4 separate regions of the Homo sapiens genome follow, and all the other regions are reported to be linked to region 4. The links are microRNA targets in miRTarBase. Many come from high-throughput screens and were not tested one by one. Region 4 holds a microRNA gene; each other region holds the end of a gene's coding sequence.

Region 1 (7,118 bases), not on the chromosome of region 4:
AAGCTCCGGTGAGGCCCAGGATGGAGAACAGGGCAGGCGACCAGGCAGGAAGTGGGGGACGGGGGACAGGAGAGGGGAGGGCAGAGGGACAGATGTGGAGACGGAGGGGTGTCCAGCGTGGAATGAGGGTGTGCAGGGCCAAGGCTGCAGAGACCCAGGGACCCCGCTGACGCCTCGACTCCCGCCTGCAGGAGCCCCAGCCCCAAGGCTTTGACAACCAGGCGTTCCTCCCTGACCACAAGGCCAACTGGGCGCCCGTCCCCAGCCCCACGCACGACCCCAAGCCCGCGGAGGCACCGATGCCCGCAGAGCCCGCACCCCCCGGCCCTGCCTCCCCAGGCGGTGCCCCTGAGCCCCCCGCAGCGGCCCGAGCTGGCGGAAGCCCCACGGCGGTGAGGTCCATCCTGACCAAGGAGCGGCGGCCGGAGGGCGGGTACAAGGCTGTCTGGTTTGGCGAGGACATCGGGACGGAGGCAGACGTGGTCGTTCTCAACGCGCCCACCCTGGACGTGGATGGCGCCAGTGACTCCGGCAGCGGCGATGAGGGCGAGGGCGCGGGGAGGGGTGGGGGTCCCTACGATGCGCCCGGTGGTGATGACTCCTACATCTAAGTGGCCCCTCCACCCTCTCCCCCAGCCGCACGGGCACTGGAGGTCTCGCTCCCCCAGCCTCCGACCCGAGGCAGAATAAAGCAAGGCTCCCGAAACCCAGGCCATGGCGTGGGGCAGGCGCGCGGGTCCATGGGGGTCCCATTCACTCAGTCCCCTGTCGTCATTAGCGCTTGAGCCCAGGTGTGCAGATGAGGCGGTGGGTCTGGCCACGCTGTCCCCACCCCAAGGCTGCAGCACTTCCCGTAAACCACCTGCAGTGCCCGCCGCCTTCCCGAGGCTCTGTGCCAGCTAGTCTGGGAAGTTCCTCTCCCGCTCTAACCACAGCCCGAGGGGGGCTCCCCTCCCCCGACCTGCACCGGAGATCTCAGGCACCCGGCTCATCTCAGACCTCCCGCTCCCGACCCTACACAGAGATTGCCTGGGGAGGCTGAGGAGCCGATGCAAACCCCCAAGGCGACGCACTTGGGAGCCGGTGGTCTCAAACACCTGCCGGGGGTCCTAGTCCCCTTCTGAAATCTACATGCTTGGGTTGGAGCGCAGCAGTAAACACCCTGCCCAGTGACCTGGACTGAGGCGCGCTGGGGGTGGGTGCGCCGTGTGGCCTGAGCAGGAGCCAGACCAGGAGGCCTAGGGGTGAGAGACACATTCCCCTCGCTGCTCCCAAAGCCAGAGCCCAGGCTGGGCGCCCATGCCCAGAACCATCAAGGGATCCCTTGCGGCTTGTCAGCACTTTCCCTAATGGAAATACACCATTAATTCCTTTCCAAATGTTTTAATTGTGAGAGTATCTGATATTCTTGACTGAACAATGTAAAAAACCCAAAGGGGGCTGCGCACGGCGGCTCTCGCCTAAATCCCAGCACTTTGGGAGGCCGAGGTGGGCAGATCACCTGAGGTCGGGAGTTCGACACCAGCCTGACCAACATAGAGAAACCCCGTCTCTACTAAAAATACAAAATTAGCCGGGCGTGGTGGTTCATGCCTGTAATCCCAGCTACTCGGGAGGCTTAGGTAGGAGAATCACTTGAACCCGGGAGGCGGAGGTTGTGGTGGGCCAAGATTGTGCCACCGCACTCCAGCCTGGGTAACAAAAGCGAAACTCCATCTCAAAAAAAGAAACGCAAACGGTGCAGCTGCCCCTTTTTCGAGGCACGTCCACCTCCCATTACCCACTTCCTTTTTTTTTTGAGACTGAGTCTTGCTCTGTCCCCTGGGCTGTAGTGGAGTGGCTCCATCTCGGCTCACTGCAGCCACTCCCAACGCCCTCCACTCCTCCCTACTCCGCGCTGGCCGGGGCGGGGTTCCGCTGGTCGCATCCAATAATAAGAACAGGCGGCGCGCGCCCTTCCCGGAAACTCCCGCCTGGCCACCATAAAAGCGCCGGCCCTCCGCTTCCCCGCGAGACGAAACTTCCCGTCCCGGCGGCTCTGGCACCCAGGTACTGGGGACCCCAGACCCACGCGGTGCAGGCCGGGAGCGAGAGCCTCCGTGGGGGCTCCGTGACCCCGGAGGGGTAGAGCCAAGAGCTGGGGGAGCCTGAGAGATGAGGGTCGGGCGGGGAGGGAGGCGGAGGCGGAGGCGGGGTTCCGCGGAGCTGAGAACCGGACGGGGTGGGATCGAGGAGGGTGCGAAGCGCCACTGTTTAGGTTTCGCTTTCCCGGGAGCCTGACCCGCCCCTGACGTCGCCTTTCCCGTCTCCGCAGGGTCCGGCCTGCGCCTTCCCGCCAGGCCTGGACACTGGTTCAACACCTGTGACTTCATGTGTGCGCGCCGGCCACACCTGCAGTCACACCTGTAGCCCCCTCTGCCAAGAGATCCATACCGAGGCAGCGTCGGTGGCTACAAGCCCTCAGTCCACACCTGTGGACACCTGTGACACCTGGCCACACGACCTGTGGCCGCGGCCTGGCGTCTGCTGCGACAGGAGCCCTTACCTCCCCTGTTATAACACCTGACCGCCACCTAACTGCCCCTGCAGAAGGAGCAATGGCCTTGGCTCCTGAGAGGTAAGAGCCCGGCCCACCCTCTCCAGATGCCAGTCCCCGAGCGCCCTGCAGCCGGCCCTGACTCTCCGCGGCCGGGCACCCGCAGGGCAGCCCCACGCGTGCTGTTCGGAGAGTGGCTCCTTGGAGAGATCAGCAGCGGCTGCTATGAGGGGCTGCAGTGGCTGGACGAGGCCCGCACCTGTTTCCGCGTGCCCTGGAAGCACTTCGCGCGCAAGGACCTGAGCGAGGCCGACGCGCGCATCTTCAAGGTGGGGACCCCAGCCCCGCCCCGCCCCGGGTGGGAGAGCCCGCCTAGGACCCCGCGGGCCCGGCACACGTGTTCTGTCCCCCTCTTCAGGCCTGGGCTGTGGCCCGCGGCAGGTGGCCGCCTAGCAGCAGGGGAGGTGGCCCGCCCCCCGAGGCTGAGACTGCGGAGCGCGCCGGCTGGAAAACCAACTTCCGCTGCGCACTGCGCAGCACGCGTCGCTTCGTGATGCTGCGGGATAACTCGGGGGACCCGGCCGACCCGCACAAGGTGTACGCGCTCAGCCGGGAGCTGTGCTGGCGAGGTGAGCGACGCCGGCTGCCAAGGGCGTTGGCATTCGTCCTGCTTGGGCAAAGGGGAACATTCTCTGGGTCAGATTTGTGGTTTTAGAAGCTGTTCTGGGAGAGGCTGCCAGCAGGCCCAGGACAGGTGGAGAGCCACATCCCCACCTCCTCAGGCCACAGCCTAAGGGTTCACAGCCAGGAAGCTGGTGGGGGCTACACCAGGCTCTCCTTGTATCTCTCACTCTGGTGTCGGGGCCTAACGCCTGCCCCATTCTCTCTCAGAAGGCCCAGGCACGGACCAGACTGAGGCAGAGGCCCCCGCAGCTGTCCCACCACCACAGGTACCCTTCTCTCTGCCTGCCTCTCCTCCTGCCAGGCCGCGGAGCTGCTTACGTTCACCCTGACTTTTCCCTGCAGGGTGGGCCCCCAGGGCCATTCCTGGCACACACACATGCTGGACTCCAAGCCCCAGGCCCCCTCCCTGCCCCAGCTGGTGACAAGGGGGACCTCCTGCTCCAGGCAGTGCAACAGAGCTGCCTGGCAGACCATCTGCTGACAGCGTCATGGGGGGCAGATCCAGTCCCAACCAAGGCTCCTGGAGAGGGACAAGAAGGGCTTCCCCTGACTGGGGCCTGTGCTGGAGGTGTGGGCGTGCCCGGGGAGGGGGGGAGCGCGGGAGGGGCCAGTGCACCTGGACGGACACTTTAGAAGGGGGCTGGGGATTGGGGAGCTGGAGAATTAGGAGGGGACCACCGTTCCCACTGTCCTCCCCTCCTCAGGCCCAGGGCTCCCTGCTGGGGAGCTGTACGGGTGGGCAGTAGAGACGACCCCCAGCCCCGGGCCCCAGCCCGCGGCACTAACGACAGGTGAGAGGGGTAGGGGTTGGGAGGCCTGGGGCACAGGGAGAGGCTAGGGATGAGGTGCCAGCACAGGATTCCCTTCCGGATGCAGGCGAGGCCGCGGCCCCAGAGTCCCCGCACCAGGCAGAGCCGTACCTGTCACCCTCCCCAAGCGCCTGCACCGCGGTGCAAGGTGAGTGCATCCCAGGAAGGGGCAGCCTGTCCCCGCCCACCCCCGTCACTCACGGCTTGTCCCCGCCCACCCATCACTCACATCCTGTCCCCGCCCACCCCCGTCACTCACATCCTGTCCCCGCCCACCCCCGTCACTCACAGCCTGTCCCCGCCCACCCCCGTCACTCACAGCTTGGTCTCCACACAGAGCCCAGCCCAGGGGCGCTGGACGTGACCATCATGTACAAGGGCCGCACGGTGCTGCAGAAGGTGGTGGGACACCCGAGCTGCACGTTCCTATACGGCCCCCCAGACCCAGCTGTCCGGGCCACAGACCCCCAGCAGGTAGCATTCCCCAGCCCTGCCGAGCTCCCGGACCAGAAGCAGCTGCGCTACACGGAGGAACTGCTGCGGCACGTGGCCCCTGGGTTGCACCTGGAGCTTCGGGGGCCACAGCTGTGGGCCCGGCGCATGGGCAAGTGCAAGGTGTACTGGGAGGTGGGCGGACCCCCAGGCTCCGCCAGCCCCTCCACCCCAGCCTGCCTGCTGCCTCGGAACTGTGACACCCCCATCTTCGACTTCAGAGTCTTCTTCCAAGGTCAGTGAGGCCCTTGCCTGGGGGGCTGTCTCCAGGGGTCCTTGGGAGCACCTGCCTGCCAGGTACTCAGCAGAGTCCCCTTCTTCAGAGCTGGTGGAATTCCGGGCACGGCAGCGCCGTGGCTCCCCACGCTATACCATCTACCTGGGCTTCGGGCAGGACCTGTCAGCTGGGAGGCCCAAGGAGAAGAGCCTGGTCCTGGTGAAGGTGAGACCAGAGCCTCAAGGAGGGGAGGCCATGTGCTCAGGCCCACTGACAGACGCCTGATGCCCTCAGAGCCTCGGAGAGGGGGAGGGGAGGCCATACACCGGGTCACTGACAGACGCCCGACGCCCTCAGAGCCTGGGGAGGGGGAGGGGAGGACACACGCCGGGTCACTGACAGACGCCCGATCCCTCCTGGCAGCTGGAACCCTGGCTGTGCCGAGTGCACCTAGAGGGCACGCAGCGTGAGGGTGTGTCTTCCCTGGATAGCAGCAGCCTCAGCCTCTGCCTGTCCAGCGCCAACAGCCTCTATGACGACATCGAGTGCTTCCTTATGGAGCTGGAGCAGCCCGCCTAGAACCCAGTCTAATGAGAACTCCAGAAAGCTGGAGCAGCCCACCTAGAGCTGGCCGCGGCCGCCCAGTCTAATAAAAAGAACTCCAGAACACGTACTGGCATCTTGGCTGGTGGGGAATTGGGTCCAGGCTGAACACGGGTGAGGCCCAGGGAGGGAGGGGACCTCCACGGCCTCCCTGCACACCAACTCACTTCTGTCTTCACCACACACATCACAGCCAAGCTTTGACTCAAAGAACAAGACCCTTGACAGGCCAGTGGCCGCCAAAGCCACTCCCACCAGCTGTGCCAAGGGCAGGGACAGCATTTCCCCATGCAGGACACCTGTCGCCAGCCCTCAGGCTGCCACTGCTGCACCCTGCCTCCAGGAGGCAACGGTGTTGAGTGCAAACTCGAGCAATTATTTACAAGAGCACAACATAATTGGAAAAGAGAAAGTAAAGATATTCCTAATTCAGAGCCAAAGGTACACAGCAGCTGTTGGCGGGAGGCCACCTAGAGATTTATCAAGGACGCGCCACCCCACCAGGAGCCCCTCTTGATCACCAAGTGCTTTATCTTCCAAGTAGTAAGTCAATCAAGAGGTTTCTAAAGATAATCCATTTTTGATAAATTAGAATGGAAACAGTGTCTCTATAATATACATACAAAAGTGTCCAGTTTTCAACTGTGAGCAACACAGGTGCACAGACCAGGTGTCAGCGCAGGAACCCGACGGCAGGCATGGTGATGCCCCCCATTTCCCGCCACTCCCGACAGCTCCCCGGGCATGGCCCCGATTCCCGCCACTCCCGACAGCTCCCCGGGCATGGCCCCGATTCCCGCCACTCCCGACAGCTCCCCGGGCATAGCCCGTGATTGCCTGGCCTCAGCCCTCGGCCCCCTGCGTGGGCGGCTCCTCCCCGGCCTCTGGTTTCTTGTGCCTGCGCATGTGCCTGTACTTGTCCACGTACGCCTTCACCAGGTTGGCCACCTTCACGGGGTTGATCTCTCCACTCTTGCTGTGGCAGATCTGGAGAAAGAGGTGCAATCACCAAATGCCCTTTCACATCCAGATGTTCCGGGCCAGAGCCCAGGGCCAAAGCTGGGCTCCCTCGCCTGCCCTGCTCAGGAGCAGGCCCTAGGTGCAGCACGCAGACAGACGGCGGCAGAGGCCGCCCCACCTATGTGAGACCCCCGTCCTGTTCGCTATGCCGCTCACAAGGCCACTGAGGGTCCCACGGTGTCGGTGGGCGGGGGGAGCATGGGCTGAGACGTCACCAGGCAACTGCTCACCTCTGGGGGTCGTTCTCCCACCTGTAAGCTGGGCGTGGGCTGGGTAGTTTTAAATTACCCAGGGTGCACTGAGGCACCCTCCTTCCTAAGCATCTGCCAGGGGCAGCCACAGGCGAACAGGCTTGACCCCAGGCCTACAGGATGTGGCAATACAGCCCCCTGACCCCTAACCTGGCTGGCTGACCTCGGGCCTGCACTCATGGCCACCCCAAAGTCCATGCTGACGAGACAGCAGCGACGTACCGCCCGTGACCCCGAGCCCCACACACAGGCTCGCACACAGCCCACCTTCTGCACGGCCTTGCGCAGGATGTCCTTGTACTCCTCCTTGGTCACCTCCCTCTTCTGGTAGAAGGGCTTGATGGCCAGCTTCACCTCCTCCACAGCACGCTCCTGCATGTGCAGCTTCTTCATGTACTAGAGGGGACATGTGTGTGATGCGGCCAGGAAGGGAGCCGGGAGTCCCTCTGGCCAGAGGCACTGTGGTTCTGGACACCCTTGCAGTTCCAGAGGCACAGCGACCAGCT
Region 2 (7,098 bases), not on the chromosome of region 4:
GGAATATAAGTCATTCTATTTTAAAGATACATACACATGTATGTTCATTGCAGCACTATTCACAATAGCAAAGACATGGAATCAACCCAAATGCGCATGATAGACCGGATAAAGAAAATGTGGTACATATACAACACGGAATACTATGCAGGCATAAAAAGGAATGAGATCATGTCCTTTGCAGGGACATGGATGAAGCTGGAAGCCATTATTTTTAGCAAACTAACACAGGAACAGAAAACCAAGCACTGCATATTCTCACTCATAAGTGGGAGCTGAACAACGAGAACACCTGGACACAGGGAGGGAAACAACACTCCCTGGGATGTTTTGGAGGAGGATGGTGGGAGGAGAGCATTAGGGAAAAGAGCTAATGCGTACTGGGCTTAATACCTAGGTGACGAGTTGGTTTGTGCAGCAAAGCACCATGGCACACGTTTGCCTGTGTAACAAACCTGCACATCCTGCACATGTACCCTGGAAGTTAAAAAAAATTATTATTAAAAAAATTTTACACATCATTCAGCTTCCTCAGGCTCCACTGTTCAAATTTTACTTCTCTCCTCTCAGCCTCCTTTAATTCTTAACTGCCACCCTCAGAATAAATTTAGAGAGGCCCTTTGAAAATATCTAATTCATTCTTCCCAGTTTAATGGATGAGGAAACAGAAGCCCAGCAAGGGCAAGGCTTACCCTCTTGGGAGACAGGTATCATCAAAGTTCTAGAAAAATTGCAGTGATCTTGTCTAGCCTCCCTCAGCCCCGTGGTGAGAGCAGCTCTTTGGGAGCCACTGTGAATAGCAAACATGGTGGTGGGGGAGAAGTGTCAGTGGCCTCAGGCTCCATGTCACTTTCTCTATGCAAAACAATGGAGAGTCATTTGGTACCTGTGAAAGGCATCTCCTGGCTTCCCAGGCTCTCAACCCAGCTTATTGGTCACATTGCTTTACAAGAGGGGCTGCTGGCTCACCTTGTCAGCGCCTTGGTATAACTTGGGCCACCAGTAGGACAAGAGTTAAATGGGTTCAATCAAGTCTTAAGCCATTCTCTCCATGTGCCACTGAAGAATCAAGTCCCCTTGTCAGCACTGTCCCCCCTGCTAAGCTCTGTCTATATTTTCCTTGATTTGAACAAATGAAACCTCATTTTCATGTGTTCAGTCCTGCTTAGTGGAGGACTATTCACACATGAAGTTGCTTATTTTTTGCTTACATGGTGGCTCACGCCTGTAATCCCAGCATTTTGGGAGGCTGAGGCAGGTGGATCTCCTGAGCTCAGGAGTTCGAGACCAGTCTGGGCAACATGGAGAAACACACTCTCTACAAAAAATGCAAAAAATTAGCCAGGCGTGGTGGTGTGTGCTTGTGGTCCCAGCTACTTGGGAGGCTGAGGTGGGAGAATCGCTTGAACCTGGGAGATTAAAGCTGCAGTGAGCCAAGATCATGCCACTACACTCCAGCCTGGGTGACAGAGGGAGACCCTGTCAAAAAAAAAAAAAAAAAAAAAAAGAAATTGCTTATTTTTGATTCTGGAAATGTTACCCCCCCAAAATCAGGGTTTGTTGGTCCGATGAATAACAAACCACGCTCCTTGAGAACGCAGGTGTGTGATCAATAGGAGTTTTATTACTTGGCACAAGGAAGAGGGGCACTGGGATTATTCTCCAAAGCAGTGTCTCCCAGAGGGAATGTGACAGGAGGGTTTTAAGGGGTAATGGAGACAGGAGGGACTGCGTCGCATGCCGAGGAGGGGTCCCAGTGGCACCAATGCAGTGAGTCCTCATGCCAGCACATAGGTCGCATGTGGTTGCTGCTGAAGCTGCTCTTCCCCTGGGGTGGAGACTATAGAATGGCCATGAGGAAAGTTCACCGAATTCATCTAAAAGTTGTTGGGGCCTGTCAGGAGCTGCTTTAACCTGCTGGGTGACCACGCAGGGTCTAGGAAGAAACAGACTGCAGGGCACGAGGCTGCAAAACAGGCTGATTGCTCAAGTTGATTAAATTCCTAGAATCCCCAGAGACCCTCCCTGTCTGCTTATGGAAATATTCTAGAAGACAGGGTGAATTTGTTCCAGATGGTATTCCCTCTGAAAGAATCTGTTAGCCTGGCAAAGAGTAGATGACAAGGTTGACTCAGGGTTACTCCGTTGTACCACCAGCTGCTTCTTGGCCTTACCACCCGATTCTAGAAAGAGAAGCAAAACTAGCTGGTAGTAAGACTGAGACGCCCACCTGTTTTCACATTTTCTCTAGTGGAAACTTGAAGTTGTTCCTTCTGCCTAAAAGGCTCCTCTCTCTCTTCTTTCAGTTCTCTGCCCAAGTACCTCCTTCTTCTTGACCACTTTTCCTAAAATATCACCTTTGGCCAGGTGTGGGAGCTTTCACCTCTAATTCCAGCACTTTGGGAGGCCAAGGTGAGAGGATCACTTGAGCTCAGGAGTTCGAGACCAGCCTGGGTGACATAGTGAGATTCTGTCTGTTTAAAAAAAAAAAAAATTAGCTGGGTGATGTGATGCATATCTGTGGTCCCAGCTACTTGGAAGGCTGAGGCTGGAGGATCCACTGAGGTTGGGAGGTTGAGGCTGCAGTGAGCCCTGATCATGTCACTGCACTTTAGCCTGGGTGACAGAGTGAGACCCTGTCTCCCAAAAACAAAACAAAAACAAAAAACACCTTTCTTCCTCCATCCCTTGATTTCTGGCTTAATCTTTTTCATTTTATTTGTACATGATCACAGGAGATTATTTAAGTTCCACACAGAATGGGCCTGGATGGTATTGTTTTTCATGGTGCCCACAAATGTGCTGGCAAAATGTCAGACGCTCAAAAACATACTGGGTGAACGATCTACACAATGAAGGGAAGGATGGTTGCCAAAGCACCCTGACAGCACCTCCCGCAGCCTCCACGGTGGAGAACCAGCTGTGTGCTCAAAGCCACACCCCTCCTTGGTGAGGGCGTGTGTCCAGATAAGAGCCAGATTGGCGAACGGGTAGAGCAGGGATGTGTTAAAGCAGTTTCTGCCTTACCTTCACAGAACTCACCGTCCTCCTGGCATCACTTGAGTAATCTAGAAAAGACTTCATCCATTCAATGGGGACTTATACTTCCTTTGGGGATTGGGAGGATTAAACATGAGTCTGGTAGGTCAGAGGGCTTGATACAAGACAGAAGTGCTTTGAGTGTGTTCTCTGTGGTGCAGTTGCTGGGCTGGTCAGTGGTAAGTTTAGGAAAAGTTTAGGATAAATTCTTGCCCACAGCAGCAACTCCTGAGACTTGCTGTGGCAGAGAATGACCCGCAGGGCAAACGTGGATCCCAGACTGATGCAGGACTCTCTTTCCATGCTCTCCTGAACCTTTTTTTTTTTTTTTTCTTTGAGACAGAGTCTCGCTCTGTCACCCAGGCTGGAGTGCAGTGGCACCATCTCGGTTCACTGCAAGCTCCGCCTCCCGGGTTCACGCCATTCTCCTGCCTCAGCCTCCCGAGTAGCTGGGACTACAGGCGCACGCCACCATGCCCGGCTAATTTTTTGTATTTTTAGTAGAGACGGGGTTTCACCATGTTAGCCAGGATGGTCTCGATTTCCTGACCTCGTGATGGGCCCACCTCGGCCTCCCAAAGTGCTGGGGTTACAGGCATGAGCCATCATGCCCGTTTTTTTTTTTTTTTTTTTTTTTTTTTTTTTTTAATTTAAGAGACAGTCTCGCTCTGTTGCCCAGGCTGGAATGCAGTGATGTGCTTTTAGTTCACTACTGCCTTGAACTCCTGGGCTCAAGTGATCCTGCTGCCTCAGCCTCCTAAGTAGCTAGGACTCTAGACATGTTGCCACTATGCCTGACTAACTTTTAAAAATTTTTTTGTAGACATGGGGTCTAGCTATGTTGCCCAGGCTGGTCTCGAACTCCTGGCCTCAAAGCATTCCTTCCACTTGGCCTCCCAAAGCACTGGGATTACAGGCTGTCTTGAATATTTCTATAGCAAAAAGGAGTTTGTATTTTTAAAGGAGGAGTTTTGGCTTCGTTCTCTTGATAGGGGAAAAGTAGAGTTTTAACTCCCAGCAACCGAATCCTAATCCTCAGGCAGGAAATGTTTTGCATATAAGGCAGTGGAGAATCATTGGGATGGGGAGAAAAGCAAAACACACAAAAGTTTTGTGTGTTTTTACCAAAGCTTCCCTGGAGATAGAATTATGATGCAGCCCAGACTCACCATTTGCCAGGAGCCCAGTACCTGTACGGTGTCTGCTAGGTGCTGACTTCTCAGGTCCCTAATTGCTGCCTTCGGAGGTGTTAGTGGAAAAGAGCCCTGTTGCACTTTCTCCCTTTTGGCTCTGTACCCTCGAGCAAGTCCCCAAGCGCATCTCGGTAGCAGGCACTCAAAGGTCTGAATATGAGCCACCAGTTGGGATTGAAATTTGAGTGAGACAGTCCCAGCGAAAGCCTTGCAACTCCAAGTGTGGTCCATGAGCCGGCAGCATTGGCATCTCCTGGAAGCCAGTTAGGAAATCTTTTCAGGGCCTCACTCCAGATCTACTGAATCAGAATCTGCATTTGAAAGAGATTCCAAAGTGATACCGCCTACACGTTAAAGCCTGGCTTCAGAAAGAGAGAAAGAAGTGATTCCAGTACCAAATGGCAAGGGAAGTGAATCTCTGTCATCCCTTCCACTCTAACAGGCAGCATGTGCTATTAAGTTAGCCTCACTATAGCTATTATCAGTGCTTGCTGAACTGAATGAATGTTCCTACCTCTGAACGGCAGGTTTTAAAGAAGAGATTCAGTTCGGTTAAAGGTACCCTTAAATCAACCACTTGGAATTGAAGCCAGCCCTGCTGGAGACCCAGTCCCCTTCATGGAACACATAGCTGCCTTCCTGTGATTCTAAACACCACTGCTACAAAGGAAAAGATTTCCAGTCTCACCTCAAGTGGAAACTGGTGCTTCTCGTTTTCTCAGCAATAGACTTGGCTTTGCACAGAAATGGCATGAACCTAAAACCAAAGCAATCAGGGACTTAAGTGGGGCCCGTTGGCTTTTTTTAGTAACCTTATGCTAAGAGGTGCAAAGATTTGAGTGCTAGATTTCAGACACAAGTGCCGAGGCAGCCAGGAAATTGTTAGTAATGAATGTTTAAACTCCCAAACGTTGTACTGAAGACAAAAGAGCTTTTGTGGCTATACTGAAACTATTGTTTTAAAATTTTATTTATAAATAAAAGATATATACATATGTGCTTTAATATGATTAACAGGTTCCATTTTGTACAAAATGTTAAACCTAGAGTCCTCTGCGTCCTGGATGAGGCGTCCAAAGGGTGGAATAGTACAGCATTAGGACCTTTGTTCTCCTCTTGGCTTCTGGAAGAGAAACTCTTGCATGCCCTCGACTTTCACCGCAAAAATAAGTGAGAAAAAAGATAAATCCCATTTATGCAATGATATGTAGCTATGAGTTAATCACGGTATTTCATTCCATGAAATCCATTAAGCTGCTGGCATTTGCATGGCTCTAAGTTTATTTTAAGAGGCTCATTCAAACATGGCCAGGAATATATTGGCCTCTTGAGAGTTTGCATGGCAAGGAGTTATACAGCAGGAAAAAGAAAAAAAACCCAATAATTATATTGATGCAAGATTCATCAGTATTTTAGAATATTGTCGTTTCAACATGTTAAATTGTTTCTGAGCACTGCTGATTTCAGCACTGTCCCTGGTCCACGTGACGCAAATGCCACCCTTTCCATATATTCTTCAGCAAAAATATATGAAAAGCCCGTCACTCCCTAAGAGGACCCTGATCCCTCTGGAGAGGAAAACTAAACTCTTTAAGAAGAAAACCAAACCCAACCTGAACTAATCGTCCAAGGAGTCCTGTTTGGTCCCACGAAAGGCAGATTTCCATCCACACCAGTGAGGGGCAAGTGTCCGGGTTCCAACTCGAAGCCAGGCGGGCCTGTGCGGGGGTGAGTCCTTTGCCACCCGGCGCCCCCCAGGCTCTACAAGCGTCTAGAGGTCGGAGTCGCAGGGCAGCGAGCTGTCGCAGGGGTGGGTGCTGCACGAGGGAGCGTCCTGGGACTCCCACCCCTCCCCGTCGAGGACGTCCACCGAGTTGGTGTAGGCCTTGGGCCGCGGCCGCGGCATGGGGAAGCCGACCTTGGGCTTGGGCTTGGGCTTGCGGTGCTGGGCAGGCGGCGGTCGGTGCTGGCCGTCGCTGTAGTACTTGATGGCGGGCGCCAGGTCGGGCTCGGGCCACTCCACTTGGATGGTGCTGACGCTGCTGCGGCGAGGCCCGGCGGAGGGTCCCTTGCGGCGGCGGCGACAACGCTCGTCGCACCAGGGCGCGAAGCTGAGCGCCAGCGAGAAGCCGCCCAGCAGCAGGAGGCAGCTGCCCAGGTAGCCCAGGACCAGGCTGTAGCTGACCTGCACCGTGACCGGGCTGGCCGGGGCGGGCAGCACGTCGCGGTCCCCCAAGAAGTGGTTGTACCAGGACACCGGGATGAGGCCGAGGAGGCCAGCGACGAAGAGCACGACGCCCGAGAGCCCTGCCAGCACGAAGTTGGGCTCGTCCTGCCAGCAGCGCACGCCCAGCGACGCCAGCAGAAGCCCCAGGACCGTGGCGGCCAGCGAGGTGACCATGAGTGCCCGCGCCACCAGCACGGGCTGGGCCTCGAAGTAGCCCCACTGGTCCGTCTGGCCGCACTCGCGCTCGCGGCTGCTCTGCTCGCGACACATGTCCCACAGGCCCTGGTACAACTCCACGTCCACTGGCTGGTTCAGGAAGCCCTTCACCAGCCGCCAGCCGGGCGCCAGGGTGCCGGTCAGGTTGAGCAGGAGCCCGCAGGGCGCCAACACCATGCCCAGCGTCATCACCACCGGCGTCCGCATCCCGGCCCGCCGCGCCGACGGCGCCCCTGCAGCCTGCCTTCCTTCTCCGCTGTCGCCTTCTCCGCCGTCGTCTTCTCCCTGCCGTGCCCCAGGCTCCGGGGACCCGAAGTCAGCGCGGACGCCCCGGGCTCCGGGTCGGGCTCCTGAGCCCTGATCGCTCCAGGGACGCTCTTTGTCTCCTGCACGGGGACCGTCCCCACTTAGGCTAGTTCCCTC
Region 3 (7,118 bases), not on the chromosome of region 4:
GGTTCAAACCCAGAGTCCACACTCCTGGCTGCTATAAATTTGTGGCCTTGAACAGTGCTTTACTGGCCTTCATGCACTCTGAGCTCTGGGCATGTCTGCCTTCCACTACTGAAGAGCAAGTCTCAGCAGGATGGGGAAGAGGTTTTATTGGCCTTTGGTACCTCCAAGGCTTAGCATGCATCTGGCATGTGGAGGCAGCGGTCACGTTCTTGCTGACCACGCCTAGCTGCTGCTTGTCAGCTGTTAATCAGTCTTATAAGCACTTAGTGCATAGCACAGGCCTCCTTCTAAAAATGAAGGCTCATGTTGAACTGTTTAGCTTCAAACCTTAAAAATGAATGATGAAAGATAGATTCAAGGTGGAGGAAGCTAAGGGTCACCAGGAGTGCTTTGGACCCTCCAGTAATGACTGCAGGCCCCCCGCAAGATCTTCTGGATTGGCTGTCATCAAGATGAGGATGAGTCTCCACTGGATGGACTGGTAGGACATCTCTCATCCTATGGGATCAGTGAGTCATTGTGTTACTGACTTAAGGAGTTAAAAAGAAAATCTTAGGAGATTTGTGAAGTTCATTAAAATAACCACTACAGTAATTGAACATGTAAAGCTAGGTATACATACTGTGCTCAGGGCTTTGTACATACGGCATATATGTATCATATCCAGTGATCAGATGAGGAAGATGAGGCTCGGGGAGGATAGGTTACTCCCCCAGTTCTGTTTTTGTGGGATAAATTGCTTCCCTGTGTTATCTTCAAATATTTTTTTGCTTGTTCTGAGAGGAAAGAATCTTGGAGTGATTTGCTTGATTTTGCTTTTAAAAGGCATGTGTCTCAAACTTGTTGTAGGTGGAAAGTGAGACCAACGTCCTGCAGGACGGCTCCCTCATTGACCTGTGTGGGGCCACTCTCCTCTGGAGAACAGCAGATGGGCTTTTTCATACTCCAACTCAGAAGCACATAGAAGCCCTCCGGCAGGAGATTAACGCCGCCCGGCCTCAGTGTCCTGTGGGGCTCAACACCCTGGCCTTCCCCAGCATCAACAGGAAAGAGGTGGTGGAGGAGAAGCAGCCCTGGGCATATCTCAGTTGTGGCCACGTGCACGGGTACCACAACTGGGGCCATCGGAGTGACACGGAGGCCAACGAGAGGGAGTGTCCCATGTGCAGGACTGTGGGCCCCTATGTGCCTCTCTGGCTTGGCTGTGAGGCAGGATTTTATGTAGACGCAGGACCGCCAACTCATGCTTTCACTCCCTGTGGACACGTGTGCTCGGAGAAGTCTGCAAAATACTGGTCTCAGATCCCGTTGCCTCATGGAACTCATGCATTTCACGCTGCTTGCCCTTTCTGTGCTACACAGCTGGTTGGGGAGCAAAACTGCATCAAATTAATTTTCCAAGGTCCAATTGACTGACGCCCTTGACAGCCATCTACGACTTTATTAACAGGTTACTGTGAAGATTTTGCCACTAACTCTAGATTTTACCTTTTTGTAATGCTGTTTATCAGAGGAGGGTGACAGGGGCTGGAAATAAAGAGAGGGGACATGGTGATGAAACATGGCAGGAGTGTAACAGATACCAGTGGTGTGTTGCATGCTCAAAACAGCAGCGTCGTCATTGAAGTCTGCTTGATTAAACCATAATATCTTTGTAATAATTGGATTTAAAATGCTATGCTTCTATTTTTAACCTTGGGTTTTTAACCAAGTTTTTTTTTTTTTGTAATCTTGGACAAGACTTTAAATCATATTTTACAGATGTAGAAGAAATTTATTCAAAAGTGTGGGCTCATGAAGTTCACTTCAGTGCAGTGTGGTGTAGGTGTTACGCGAAGGGCGCACAGTGTCTAGAAATACTTGATCGTGGCTCAAACCTGACCAGACAGCAGAGGGGCGGCTCTGTACAGTGTGACTGGTGGACAGATGGCCTTAGGCACAGGTGGTTTTGAAATCTGGGGCTTTTTCTGATTTATTTTTCTGACTTGTTGGGGGAGAGAATATTCATAACTTGTGGGCTTTTTTTTTTTTTAACTTCAGTGGAATTTACTTTAGATATTCATTCATCAAATACATGGGACTTCACAAACAATTTTCCATAACTTTTTAGCCTGTCTTTTGTTATTTCTGCCTAATATGATTTGCCCCGATACTCATCTTGCACGGCCAGAACTGTTTGGTTGATTAAAATACATCAGCTCTTAAAAACTCATTAACTGAGGGTAATTACAGTAGTAGACATGGTCTGGGTACTATACTACCATGTTTATTTGCTGACTGAATTAAGATTTAAGAATGATTAAAAATAAGCTTTTACTTTTTAAAACCACTTGAGGTTTCATAAAGCTTGGGGTTTTTTTTTTTCCTTTGTTAAGAAAGCCAACCAATCACAATGATATAGTCATTGTTGTGCACTCCCTTTTCACCATCTGTCACCTTCCCTTGCAGCTTAAGGAGCCCAGTAAGTTTTGAAAATGTTTGCGAATCAAACTAAATTTAAGTGGGATGATTAGATATACACAACACCAAGTGGTACATCTGCAGAGATAATTCAAAATTCCTGCTTTTGAGAGAGCAAATGAGTGTTGCTGAGGAATAATTAAATGAGAATTTCATAGGAGCTCCACCATTCCTGTTACTTTCATTTCATTTTGATTAATAATTCTTGGATGCTTGGCATCGATCGTATCACTGCTCCTAGAAGGTAAAGATCCTTTAGGACATGAGACTGGTAGAAGCTGGCTGAGATAAAATAAGTATTTATTTAAACTAATGTTCTCTTAATTTGACCATTGCAGATTTGGGTGACTTTTTTTTAACCTTTGTACATATACGTAATTTATATGATTCTAATGTACTATATCCATACTTGAATTGGTTTTTTCGTATTTTGCCTACTGGCAAATATTTTGCCTATTTTCAGTCGTTCTAACCTATTTGAATACGCTTTTCCTTAAAGTGATACGATAATATTACTCTTGATTGCTGCTGCTTAATTTGATGTAATATGTTTAAAGTTCAGCCTCTCAGTTTTAATATAGCTTTATTTTTCAGTGGAGATCATTGTTTAGGATGAGACATTTTTGGTTTTGGTTTTGTTTGGGTAAATTTTAAATGGTGTGAAAATCGATGACAACAGTCCTCTTACAGATAGCTTGCTGTATTCTGTATAGCTTACTCTACCTGCAGACAGAAAATGAAAGAAAAAAATGGACTTGCCTAGAATAATATATTGAATGCCTTTTGATTTAGCCAGAGTCTCTGATGATTAGCTTTCACTGATAGAGTATGTCTTTTCAGCCTGTAATTCTTTGGGCCCCAAAGAATGACAAAGGAGGCACTCGTTCTCTTTTCTTGCTGTATGCCTAGAAAGTGGTTGAAGGATTCTTGATGCCCTAAAACCATCTTGTAAGCTAAATGGTCTTGCATCCAGAAAGGCCAGATTTTACCTACCAAGAAAAAAAGATATTTTTCCAGAGAGTTAGGTATATCATAATTTTCCATTTCAAGTCCTGTTTATAAGTCTAGTCATTCTGCAACGTGACATATCCCCCAAAATGAAGTTACCTTCCAAGTTGGACACGTCCCGTAGTTGGGCATATGTCTAACTAAAAGTTTCTGACTTTTAGTAAATTCAGCTTAAATATAAGTTGAAATTTGGGAAATAATTTCCAAGCTCTTGGAAGGGGTAACAGTGAACCGCCCTCCATGGGCTCCACATCTTTTCCTTTGGCTTCCAAAGTCAGGTCCCGCCCACCCTGCCTAAGGAACTGCAGAGAGGTGGCAAATCAGCAAAAAGGACACCAGGCTCTTCTTGGCCACTTGTAGGAAGATCCCTTTACAATTTTGACTAAGGAGATTTTTTTTTTCACAGTTGAGTTAGTTTGTGAAAATAAAGAACTCTGTAGCTCACCAAGGTGGAGAAACGCAATTCAGAAAAGTAATTTCTCCAAGGTCACTTCTTTTTTTATGTCTTGCCATCACTTTAAAGGACTAGCCCCACTCCCCCATGTGTATACACAAGGAAATTGCAGACCAATTAGTTGTCTTGGCCTGACTCTAATGCCTTTTGCAAGTAGCTTTCCAGAAGTAAAAGTCCCAGTGATGTATTCCCATAGAAATATTTTTCAGTTGTTTATGTCGTTTACTACAAAAAAAAAGATTCAGAGTGGATGGAGTACAACTCTGAGTATTTTTCTAGTCCGGAATTTTTTATTAATAATCGGTGCTGCCGGGTCATGCATGCTGCAACTCTCAACATTTCCCTTATTTGGTTCAGCTTTTAGCAAAAAGGGCTACAGTTCACCCTGCAGAGTATTAAGGTTTCTGGATTTTTTTCTCCCAACTGTGGCCCAAAAGAATTAAAATCTGTTAATATAAATAGAGAACATATTTATCATTCCTCGATAGTTAATTATAGACTTTGGTACCTTTGTGCCTCAGGGAAGCCACGTGATATAACTGGTTATAGAATTTCAGGGTTAGGGTTTAAAGAAAGGAGAAAGCCATTGGAAAAATGATGGGCTCCATTAAGGAGACTAATGAATCTGGATGCAGAAATATGTCAGAAACTGGCATAAACATGATTGTAGTAGAATTTATTTTCCAGTACCAATAGGGAAATTATTTTAAGTTATTACATTTACTGTATTGGGAAACTTGAGGAGAACTCTTTAGTTCATAAAGCTTCAATGTCTTTTTTTTTTTTTTCATGGAAAAACTCAAACCTCTGTTATTTGGGAGCTCAGTATTGTGTGGACACTTACGAGAGTTTTCTGCTTAATTGAAGTGTAATATAGGTTGTAGAATTGTTACCTGCAGTTCTATGGTTTTGTTTCACTTCTTTTCTTTTTTAAAGCCATTCTGTTCTTTGGATGTGCTTGAAAGGGTGTGTGATTACACCATTGTTAATGCTGGGTAAAAACTATCTTCTTGCAGCCTTGCCTCATAACAGTGGAATTTCTGATAGACAAACCACAGGACTTTGATTTTAAGCCAAATCCATCTCCATCCCTTTACTGTCAATCTTCTGTCCCAGTAGTTTAGCCTTTGTGGCTTAGGTTATGATGCGCCTCCTTCTGTGCGACCAATGAGACGACTTCAGCATCTTTTTAAAATAATCTAAGCATCATTGAAGCAGTAACACAAAAAAAAGGTTCAGTATTTTCTTTTTAGTATAACTTACATCCTTTCAAATAAGTCTTTGCCCTCATGAAGAATCCCTAGAGGAAGATAAGGAAAATAAGTATTTTCCAGTTTTGCTTGACAGTTTCTAAACAAACAAAAATAAACTCAATGAAAGGAAAGATGTTTCTTTTTAGCTGAGATGACAGATTGCTTCTCTGTATTAAATAGTCTAGAAGTTAAGGGGATGGTCACATTTACCATGTATTGTGTTATTAGCAGTTAAATTTTATGAATATGTTTGTAAAATTGTTGTTTTATATTTCATGTCAAATTGAAAAGTTTATTTCTTCACTATTGTACCTGTGGAAATACAAGCCATTTTACAGGAAAAAATCTTCAAAAACTATTAAATGGATATCAGCCTGTTTGTGAGCCATTGTCTTCAGATTCTGTGGTTGTCACTGAGTTCATTAGGACATTTAGTAGGTTGATACGAGTAGAACTGATTTTTTTCACTTCTCTAACTTCCAAGTTAATCTCCAGCTGTTGAGTTTATTAATTGTTTTATATTCTGCACAATACATATTTAAACCTTGATTCTGAAAATCCCCTACATTTTTTAATTAAAGAAATTTCCTTGGTGCCTATATTACTATTTCTCGTGACATTACATCACTGTCAAATAAAGTTAACTTCCAGGGGAATTTAACCTGACTTGTAGAATTAATGGATTTTTGTCATGATCATTTCAGCCATATTGCTGCTCTTGTGACAGTCTTCATTCACTTTTAACAACATAATAAGGATTGTGTATAAGCCTTCAAGCCTTCCTTGAAGCCTTAAACTAATATATCTATCATAAGAAAATGTATATATTTATGACAAATTTTGTTCTCATCACATTGATATTCAAAGAGTTTTAGTATTATTGAGAGAAACAGATTTTTCATTTCCAGAAAAAAAATGCACATTTATATAGGCTTTTATTTCAGGGGATAAGTGTTCCATACTTTGTCAAATCTAAGATGCCACGAATTGTGAGATGTGTTATAGAAAATCACAACTGGTTATAATTGTAAGTTACATTCCATTGGGCAAGGAATACACCTCACACAGCATACAAACATTAAATCAAAATGGGTCAAAGAGCTACAACTATAGAACTCTTAGAAGAAAACATAATGTAAACCTTTGAAAACATAATGTAAACCTTTGTAACCTTAGATTTGTCAGTGATTTTTGACATACCAAACGTAAAAACACAAGCAACAAAAGAAAAAAGGCCAGGCACAATGGCTCACGCTTGTAATCCCAGCACTTTGGGAGGCCGAAGCAGGCAGATCACTTGAGGTCAGGAGTTCAAGACCAGCCTGGCCAGCATGGTGAAACCCCGTCTCTGCTAAAAATACAAAAATTGGGCGTGGTGATGGGCGCCTGTAATTCCAGCTGCTTGGGAAGCTGAGGCTGGAGAATCGCTTGAACCTTGGAGGCAGAGGTTGCAGTGAGCCGAGACCGCACCATGCACTCCAGCATGGGCGACGAGCGAAACTCCGTCTCAAGAAAAAAATAGAAAAAATATATAACATTGGGTTTCATCAAAATTAAAGTTTTGTGCATGGAAGGACGCTGTCAAGAGAGTAAAAAGACAACTCACAAAATAGAAAATATTTAGGGATTATATATTTGATAAGGAACTTGGGTCCAAAATATGTAACAGGCTCTTACAACTCATCAAAATGCAACCTCTTTAAAAGACGATCAAAAGTTTATAACTTTTCAGAACATTTTCCAAAGAATGTATTAAATGGCCAGTAAGCACATAAAAACATGGCTCGACAATTAGCCATCAGGGAAGTGCAAATTAAAACCACACAATACCACGTTATACCCACTAGGATGGCTAAAGTCAAAAAGACAATAATGAATGTTGGCATGGATGTTGAAATACACTCATAAATTGTTGGTGGGATTGTAAAATGATGCAGCTGCTT
Region 4 (7,118 bases):
TTTTGCCCACTTCCTAGAACTTTATGGAAGGCAGAATTTAAGAGTGATGAACTAGGATATTTGGCAGAAGAAATCTTTGAGCAAGGTGTTCAGGGTACTGCATGGCTTCTCTTAACTGCTTATAGTAAAATGCAGGAGAGAAATATAGTGAAGATGGAATTTAAACTCAGAGGAGTGGCCAGGCATGGTGGCTCATGCCTGTAATTCCAGCACTTTGTGAGGCCAAGGGTGGGTGGATCTATTGAGCTCAGGAGTTTGAGACCAGCCTGGGCAACATGGTGAAACCCTGTCTCTACCAAAAATACAAAAAATTAGCCAGGTGTGGTGGCACATGCCTGTACTCCCAGCTACTCGGGAAGCTGAGGTGGGAGGATCACTTAAGCCTGGGTGGTCAAGGCTGCAGAGGGCTAAAATCTCACCACTGCACTCCAGCCTGGGCAACACAGCAAGAACCTGTCTCAAATAATAATAAATAATAAAATCAAAGGGGAAGCAGAATTTAAAGGTTTGGAACATTCTCAGCCTGGCCAAGTGCAAAAGCATTTGGAAGAAAACACCAGGGGTGTGAAGAAGTGACCATTTGCAAGGAGATTAGTATGGATAGAAGAAAGTCATACACTGTTCATCAAGACAATGAAAAGTGACCCTGAACACGGTGAAACCCCATCGCTACTAAAAATACAAAAATTAGCTGGGTGGTGGTGCACACCTGTAATCCCAGCTGCTGGAGAGGGTGAGGTGGGAGAACCACTTGAACCTGGGAGGTGGAGGTTGCAGTGAGCTGAGATCGTCCCGCTGCACTCCAGCCTGGGTGACAGAGTGAGACTTTGTCTCAAAACAAAACAAAACAAAACAAAAAACACCCTGAAGGCATATCAGAGACTATTGGTGCTGCCTTTCTCATGACAAGCCCGGAGTGCCAAGGCCTGGGGCACATAACTAAAACTAGGGGCTTAGGGTAACCGAAGAACCTCTGCGTTCACTGCCCAGTGATGCCTCATCTCTGCTCCATTTACTCCAGTGTAGCACTCCTCACCCACCTCAGCTGTGGTTATGCCTAGGTGTGGCTAGTGCCCCCAGTGTCCACATTATAACTCTGCAGACACACAGAGCGCAAGAGCTGTGGAGGAATGACTAATTCCACGTAGGTTTCAATGGATGACTTGGAGAGCCTCAGGACCAACACAGAGAACTGAGACAGGGATAGTGCCACCAGACTCCCCAGTGGGACAATGCCCAGGGTAGCCATAAGATTGGGACTGCCTCTGAGACTCCAGTACTGCAGAGCCACTGGAGTGTGATCCTAGCCTGGGAGAGCTGCAGACACCCAACTCCAACTTGCGAGGTGCTGTATAGAATATGCCCAACAAAACCATGGGGCTGAGGCCCCCTATGGCCTTGGGGGCTTAACCTCCACTCCAGTGTGTCTAGATTATTCTCAAGCCTTAAGATTTAATGTTGTTTACCTTGTTGGTTTTAGCACTTACTTAGGACCTGTTATTCCTTCTTTCTTTCCTATTGCTTTGTTTTGGAATGGAAATGTCTATCCTATGGTTGTTCCACCATTGTATTTTGGAAGTATATAACTTGTTTGACCTTATAGGTTCACAGCACAAAAGCAATTTGTCTCAGAATGAACCTTACCTTCAGTCTCACTCATATCTGATTTACATGAGATTCTAGACTTTTGAGTTGATGCTGGAACAAGTTAAGATCTCTGGGGCTACTGAGATGGAATGAATATATTTCATACGTAAGAACATAAATTTGGGGGGCCAGGAGCCAGACACTATGGTCTGATTGTGTCCTCCGAAGTTCATATGTTGAACCTTAGTCATCAGTGTGATAGTATTAAGAGGTACAGGCTTTAAGAGGTGATTAGGTTACAAGGGAAGAGGCCTCACTGATGGGATTAGGCTCTTTAAAAGGGGCTTGACGGAGTGTGTTCTTTCTCTTCTCCTATGTGAAGACACAGCATTCATCTTCTTTTTGCCCGTTCATCATCATATGAAGAAGCAGTAAGAAGGCCCTCACCCAACACTGAGTGCCAAGGCCTTGGCCTTGGACTTCCCAGCTTCTAGGACTATAAGAAAATAAATTACTGTTCATTATAAATTACCCAGTCGCGGGTACTTTGTTATACCAGCATGAATGGACTAAGACAGTGATCAACTCAGTTGTCAGAGGTCAGGGGTGGGATTGAATGTTGAAAGCTCCAACCCTCTAATCATACCTTGGTCTTTCTGACAACCAGCCTTCATCCTGAAGCTAACTTGCCACCACCTCTACTCCCCGCTAAGCCAAGTCATCTCATTATCTTGTTAGCATACAGAAAGACACTCATCACTCCAGAGAGTCCAAGGATCTTAGAAGCTCTTGTGTCAGGAACAGGGGACTAAGACCAAATACTTTAACAAAAGATGCTATCACCTCTATTAGTTAGAAAATTATGACAGTTTTAGCAGCTCTGTTCCAGGAACTGAGGGTGAAGACCAAATATGTCTTTTTCTTATTATATTATCACAACATTCAATCTTGCTTTGAGGATCAACCCAATACTTGTACCTGAGAGGGAAATGTAAACTTATCAATGGAATTAGGGAGTTCTTCACACCTGGCACCACTGTCAACACCTTCTCATTTAATGATAGGCAAAGGGACTCAAAGAACATCAGAAGTAAGGAGTGGAGGACTGGGCATGGTGGTTCAAGCCTGTAATCCCAGCACTTTTGGAGGCTGAGGCGAGAGGATCACTTGAGCCCAAGAGTTCTGTACCAGTGCACTCCAGCCTGAATGACAGAATGAGAACTCATCTCTTTAAAAAAAAAAAAAAAAAAGTATGAGTGGACATGGGAGAAGAGAAACTGTCCCTTTGGTAATTATGATTTATTAAACATAACCATGTTGCACAGAGCCACTTATTTCTCTTAAAAGCCTGTCAAACGTCTTAAGTGGAATTACTTTCTCTTCCCGGGTCACAAAAGCCAGTGGCTCAGGTACAGAATAGATAATAGAACTGATTGGTGAGTAGGAAGCCAAAAGACACACACAGAGAACAGTACAATCTTTTAAAAGCTCCAAGTCATTAGCTTTATTTTTACTGAATTCAGCATGGGATGACAAAAATGCATTATATCACTACCATCCATTATTACATGTAGACATTTATCCTTGTATTCTTTATATGTCCATTTTCTACGTTAAATCTGTTAACCAATACTAATTTAAATTACATGATTTCCTACTAAAAATATGCAGTTCATATAAGCAAGGGCAAATAAATCCTCCTTAAAACATTTTATTCCTTTATAATTGAGAACTTAACAGTCTTAATGGCTAGTTCTTAAAAAATGTTTATAGGATTAAGTTTATTTAAGAGAGCAGACAAACAAAACATATTGTAAAACTAGTATTTTCCAGAAGCAATTTCCATTCTCTTCCTTTCTTCCTGCAAACTGGTGTTTTATCTTTACAAGTTCTCTGTCATTCCATAAGAAAGCTGAACAGTGGTTAAAACATCCAGTTTGCTTGAATTCCTGAGTGATTCAGATTCCAGTGAGATTGAGGGTCATTCATAACAGTTACAAGGCTGGTGTGGTAAAGGGAGAACAAAAATAAACTGGGTTTCTGCAGGTAAGTGAGAAGACAAAATGAAGAGGAATAAGGTTGTAAGGCAGTATGATTAGGCTTGTGGGTGCTATGCCTTCTGATAATAATTATGAACAGAAATAGAAGCCAAAAAGTAAACAACATGTAAGTTGTCAATCTTTGACAGTTGAGGCAGGGAGAAGGAAGGAAGGATGACATTACACCTTATCTCTGGTTTACTAGGCTGGTGTGTGAGACCATTTGGGTGAAATCGTATTGAAATCATTCATTGCTGAGGTGATCAGCTTTCTTGCGGTCCTTTCTCTGCACTCTATTCAATGATAAACTCCACTGGTTTATACCTCCTGGAAAACAGTTATTCAGAAACATTATAGGGGTAGCATTGGTGAGACAGCCAATGGAGAACATGTTTCCAGGTAGCCTGAAACCCAGCAGACAATGTAGCTGTTGCCTAACGAACACAGAAATCTACATTGTATGCCAGGTTCATGCCCCAGACCTGGATGTTCAGCTTGCAAGTAATTCTCACATACTATTTCAACACAACTGCCTACTGCATTCAAGATTTCAAAATTGGCATTTGTCTTTTCTACCACAAGGAAAAGAAAACCAACAGTCAGAAATGCTGGGACTTACCTACTACCAACAAAATTTCCTTAAACCATCATATCATCAAGTTGTCATCATTTAATCATGACATCATGTTGAAAATGCCATCTAAAAGTCAAGAGATGAAAAAGCTGGATGGAAGGAAGGTCGGATAGATAAACTGGTAGGTACGTGGGCAGGTGGGTGGATGGATGGATGGATGGGTGGATGGATAAATGGGTGGATGGGTAGGGGTAGATAGGTAGGTAGGTAGATAGATGAATAGATTGATCTATCCAAATGATACCTTTCATAGGGGGGAAAGAGAAAAAAAGAGGTAAAACAAAAACAGGTAAGAGCTAAAACATGGATAAATATCCAGATTCCTCCCCCTTGTAGTATTGAAAGCAAATAGACCTCATCATTCATAAAACCTTGAAGGTTCCCAAGCCCCAGCTGATAATGTTGGACTTAACACCCTAGAACTTGACTCTCTCCTCTCTCTCTGTCTCTCTCTCTCTCTCTCTCTCTCTCTCTTTGTGTGTGTGTGAGTGTGTGTGTGAGTGTGTGTGTGTGTGTGTGTGTGTGTGTGTGTGTGTGTGTGTAATTCAAGGTAAAGTTTTCATTATTAAAGACTGCCCAATAATCTCTCTCAGGACACTGAAGCAGAAGCTAGAAGATGCCATCAGAGACCCAGTAGCCAGATGTAGCTGCTGATTACGAAAGACAGGATCTACACTGGCTACTGAGCCATTGAGGGTACCTACACCTTCCAGCAGCTGGGTGATCCTTTGCCTTCTGGGGAGGGGCTCTGTGGAAGAAAAAAGAAGATATCAGATTTCAATTGCACATTTTCTTTGGATCATGAATTGACATTTTGACAATATTCCCATGTACGTAATTTTAAACAACCTCTGGATTTATTTACTTATCCAACAGATACTGACTGAGTGACATTAAATAAAGTGCCACATATTTTCTTAGGTGCTGGAGATCCAGCAGCAAACAAAAAAAGTGGAAAATCTCTATACTTCTACAGCATACATGATTCCTTGTGACAAAATCTACAATCAATTATTTGGTATGTTTTGCAGTAAAATGGAAATATACACAAGAGAAAAACAAACAAGCAAACAAAAAACCAATCTACCATTTTATTGTGGCTTGGAGCATTTTTGTTGCTTCCTGTCACTTTAACTTGGGTAATCTAGCAATGATGCACATATGTAAAGTAAATTGCAGTTAAAAAATTCTTTCGTGTTACGAACTGAGGATAATACAGTTATTTTACCAAATATCTCAAACACCAAAGAAAATTACAGAAAATGCATATTATAATAAATATTCAAAGCAGGTGCTCACTAGCATGTCAGTTCCAAGCTTTCCTCCCATGATACAATGAAGGTAACAAAATAAGTCACAGGATTGGTGTTCTCTTTGCTATTCATTTATCCACCCCAGAAATACTTACTGAGTACCTTCAATAAGTACCTTTCAGTACCTTACTGAAATACTTCTGCGTGCTTTATTCCAGGCACTGGGAATGCAACACTGAACAAAATCCTTGCACTCACGGAAGTTTAAGTCTAAGATTTAAGGAAAGGGTAGAAAAAGACTGAAAAAAACCTCCATAGATATGGACGGTCATTTCATAGAGTAATGAAACAGTTAAGAGGAATGCTATTTTCGATAAGGTGGCTAGGAAAAGCCTCACTGAGGGCCTGGCATTTGAGTGGATTCCTGAAGTAGGAGGAGAAGAATCATGTACATACCTGGGGTGGGAAAGGACACCACAGGGAGAGGCAAGAGTCAGAACAAAAAGCACTGAAACAGGAAAAAGCCTGGTATCTTGGACAAGGTGTTCTTTTATTAGCACATGACCACATGGCCAATTATTGTTTCCTACTTTTAGGATTATTCTAGAAGGTAAATGACTATGCAACTTTTCTCCAAGTACACGTCTTAGAATCCTTTGCTGTGAATTTAAAATGCTTCAGCTATCACTTAGAAAAGATTTAATAAAGCTACTGTCAATTGGAAACTAGTACCATTTGATCGGACATGCAGCTATACCACAGTATGACACACACATATTTATCACCAAGAGAAAAGTGGCTTTTTAAAAATGTGTTAGCTATAAGAAAAGATAACCAGCTTTCTGGGAGCTCTAAATATATACATATCTAGGGAATGATTTAACTATTTAATCACAGATGTCTAATTTTAAGAGGCAACTCACTTGCCAAATTATAGTAATAGTGCTTCACCAGTGTGGTTAGCTCTTGGTGGGGGAGGATAAGGGTGGAATTTACAAGGTGAAGCAGGGGTTTTTTTGATTGCTTGCTTTTTTTTCTCTTTAAATAAGTTAAGGCCAATCCCATCTATGAAGTATATTTTGGCACTGCCTACAAACCAGAGCATACATACTGAAGTGGGGGAAAAGACCGTTTATATAGGTTTGGCTAAGTCTTACCCTCAATGTAAAATAAAGCATTTGTAGAACACACAAACTTACATTTCATAAACCACTAAAACTAACTGTTCATAACTCTACTTTTATGAATAAGACTAACAATTAAAGTGAGGCAAGGGTTTAGTGTGGTCACTTTCAATGCCAAAATACAAAAGATTATCTTTTATAAATCTTTACATTTAGATGAGAAAAGGTAAATTTTTAATTCTCAAAGGTATCTATTCTCCACATCTTAGTACTAAAGTTAAGGTGGTCTTTTGCCCCTTGTTTTAAATTTAATCTAGGTAATACAAATAGGAAAATCTGTAAATAAAATTTTATTAAAGGTTATTCTGTAAATTAGTGTCAACCACTAAACAATACTATACAGTTTTAAGTTTATTAAAAACACAAAGAATAGAATATGTAGAATATATAACACCATAGAATATTAACCAATAATGCATTT

What was found. The annotated mature microRNA hsa-miR-222-3p reads AGCUACAUCUGGCUACUGGGU and lies in region 4 at 4,889-4,909, opposite strand. An mRNA with a match to its seed (bases 2 to 7 or 8) in the 3' UTR can be bound and repressed. Matches are read on the target gene's strand: a 7mer-m8 pairs with bases 2 to 8, a 7mer-A1 pairs with bases 2 to 7 and ends in A, and an 8mer does both.
Region 1: the mRNA of PHRF1 is a reported target of hsa-miR-222-3p. The part of its 3' UTR that is shown has no 7-base or 8-base seed match.
Region 2: the mRNA of CLDN23 is a reported target of hsa-miR-222-3p. The part of its 3' UTR that is shown has no 7-base or 8-base seed match.
Region 3: the mRNA of PELI2 is a reported target of hsa-miR-222-3p. The part of its 3' UTR that is shown has no 7-base or 8-base seed match.

Annotation. Positions count from the first base shown.
Region 1 is chr11:610,844-617,961 of GRCh38, reverse strand. PHRF1 (PHD and ring finger domains 1) reads right to left here. Exons shown (of 18, transcript NM_001286581.2): 17 at 6,880-7,008; 18 at 5,740-6,328. The coding sequence ends at 6,185. It overlaps IRF7 (interferon regulatory factor 7), which reads left to right and starts at 2,012. Exons shown (of 11, transcript NM_001572.5): 1 at 2,012-2,049; 2 at 2,315-2,617; 3 at 2,703-2,865; 4 at 2,955-3,165; 5 at 3,428-3,486; 6 at 3,563-3,788; 7 at 3,925-4,011; 8 at 4,097-4,177; 9 at 4,367-4,756; 10 at 4,845-4,963; 11 at 5,162-5,407. The coding sequence starts at 2,598. The coding sequence ends at 5,317. It overlaps CDHR5 (cadherin related family member 5), which reads left to right. Exons shown (of 15, transcript NM_021924.5): 14 at 1-8; 15 at 192-1,379. The coding sequence ends at 611. RefSeq lists enhancers at 2,556-3,150, 3,745-4,339, 4,934-5,528.
Region 2 is chr8:8,702,183-8,709,280 of GRCh38, reverse strand. CLDN23 (claudin 23) reads right to left here. Exons shown (of 1, transcript NM_194284.3): 1 at 5,185-7,098. The coding sequence starts at 6,882. The coding sequence ends at 6,004. Among named protein-coding and RNA genes, the nearest start is that of CLDN23, 3.8 kb to the right of the region's middle. RefSeq lists an enhancer at 6,551-7,098 and a silencer at 6,992-7,098.
Region 3 is chr14:56,295,751-56,302,868 of GRCh38, forward strand. It overlaps PELI2 (pellino E3 ubiquitin protein ligase family member 2), which reads left to right. Exons shown (of 6, transcript NM_021255.3): 6 at 850-5,774. The coding sequence ends at 1,416. Among named protein-coding and RNA genes, the nearest start is that of LINC02284, 12 kb to the right of the region's middle. RefSeq lists an enhancer at 1,099-1,598.
Region 4 is chrX:45,742,148-45,749,265 of GRCh38, forward strand. It overlaps MIR222 (microRNA 222), which reads right to left and starts at 4,977; the gene lies at 4,868-4,977. MIR222HG (miR222/221 cluster host gene) reads right to left here. Exons shown (of 2, transcript NR_170290.1): 2 at 3,067-7,118. MIR221 (microRNA 221) reads right to left here and starts at 4,119; the gene lies at 4,010-4,119.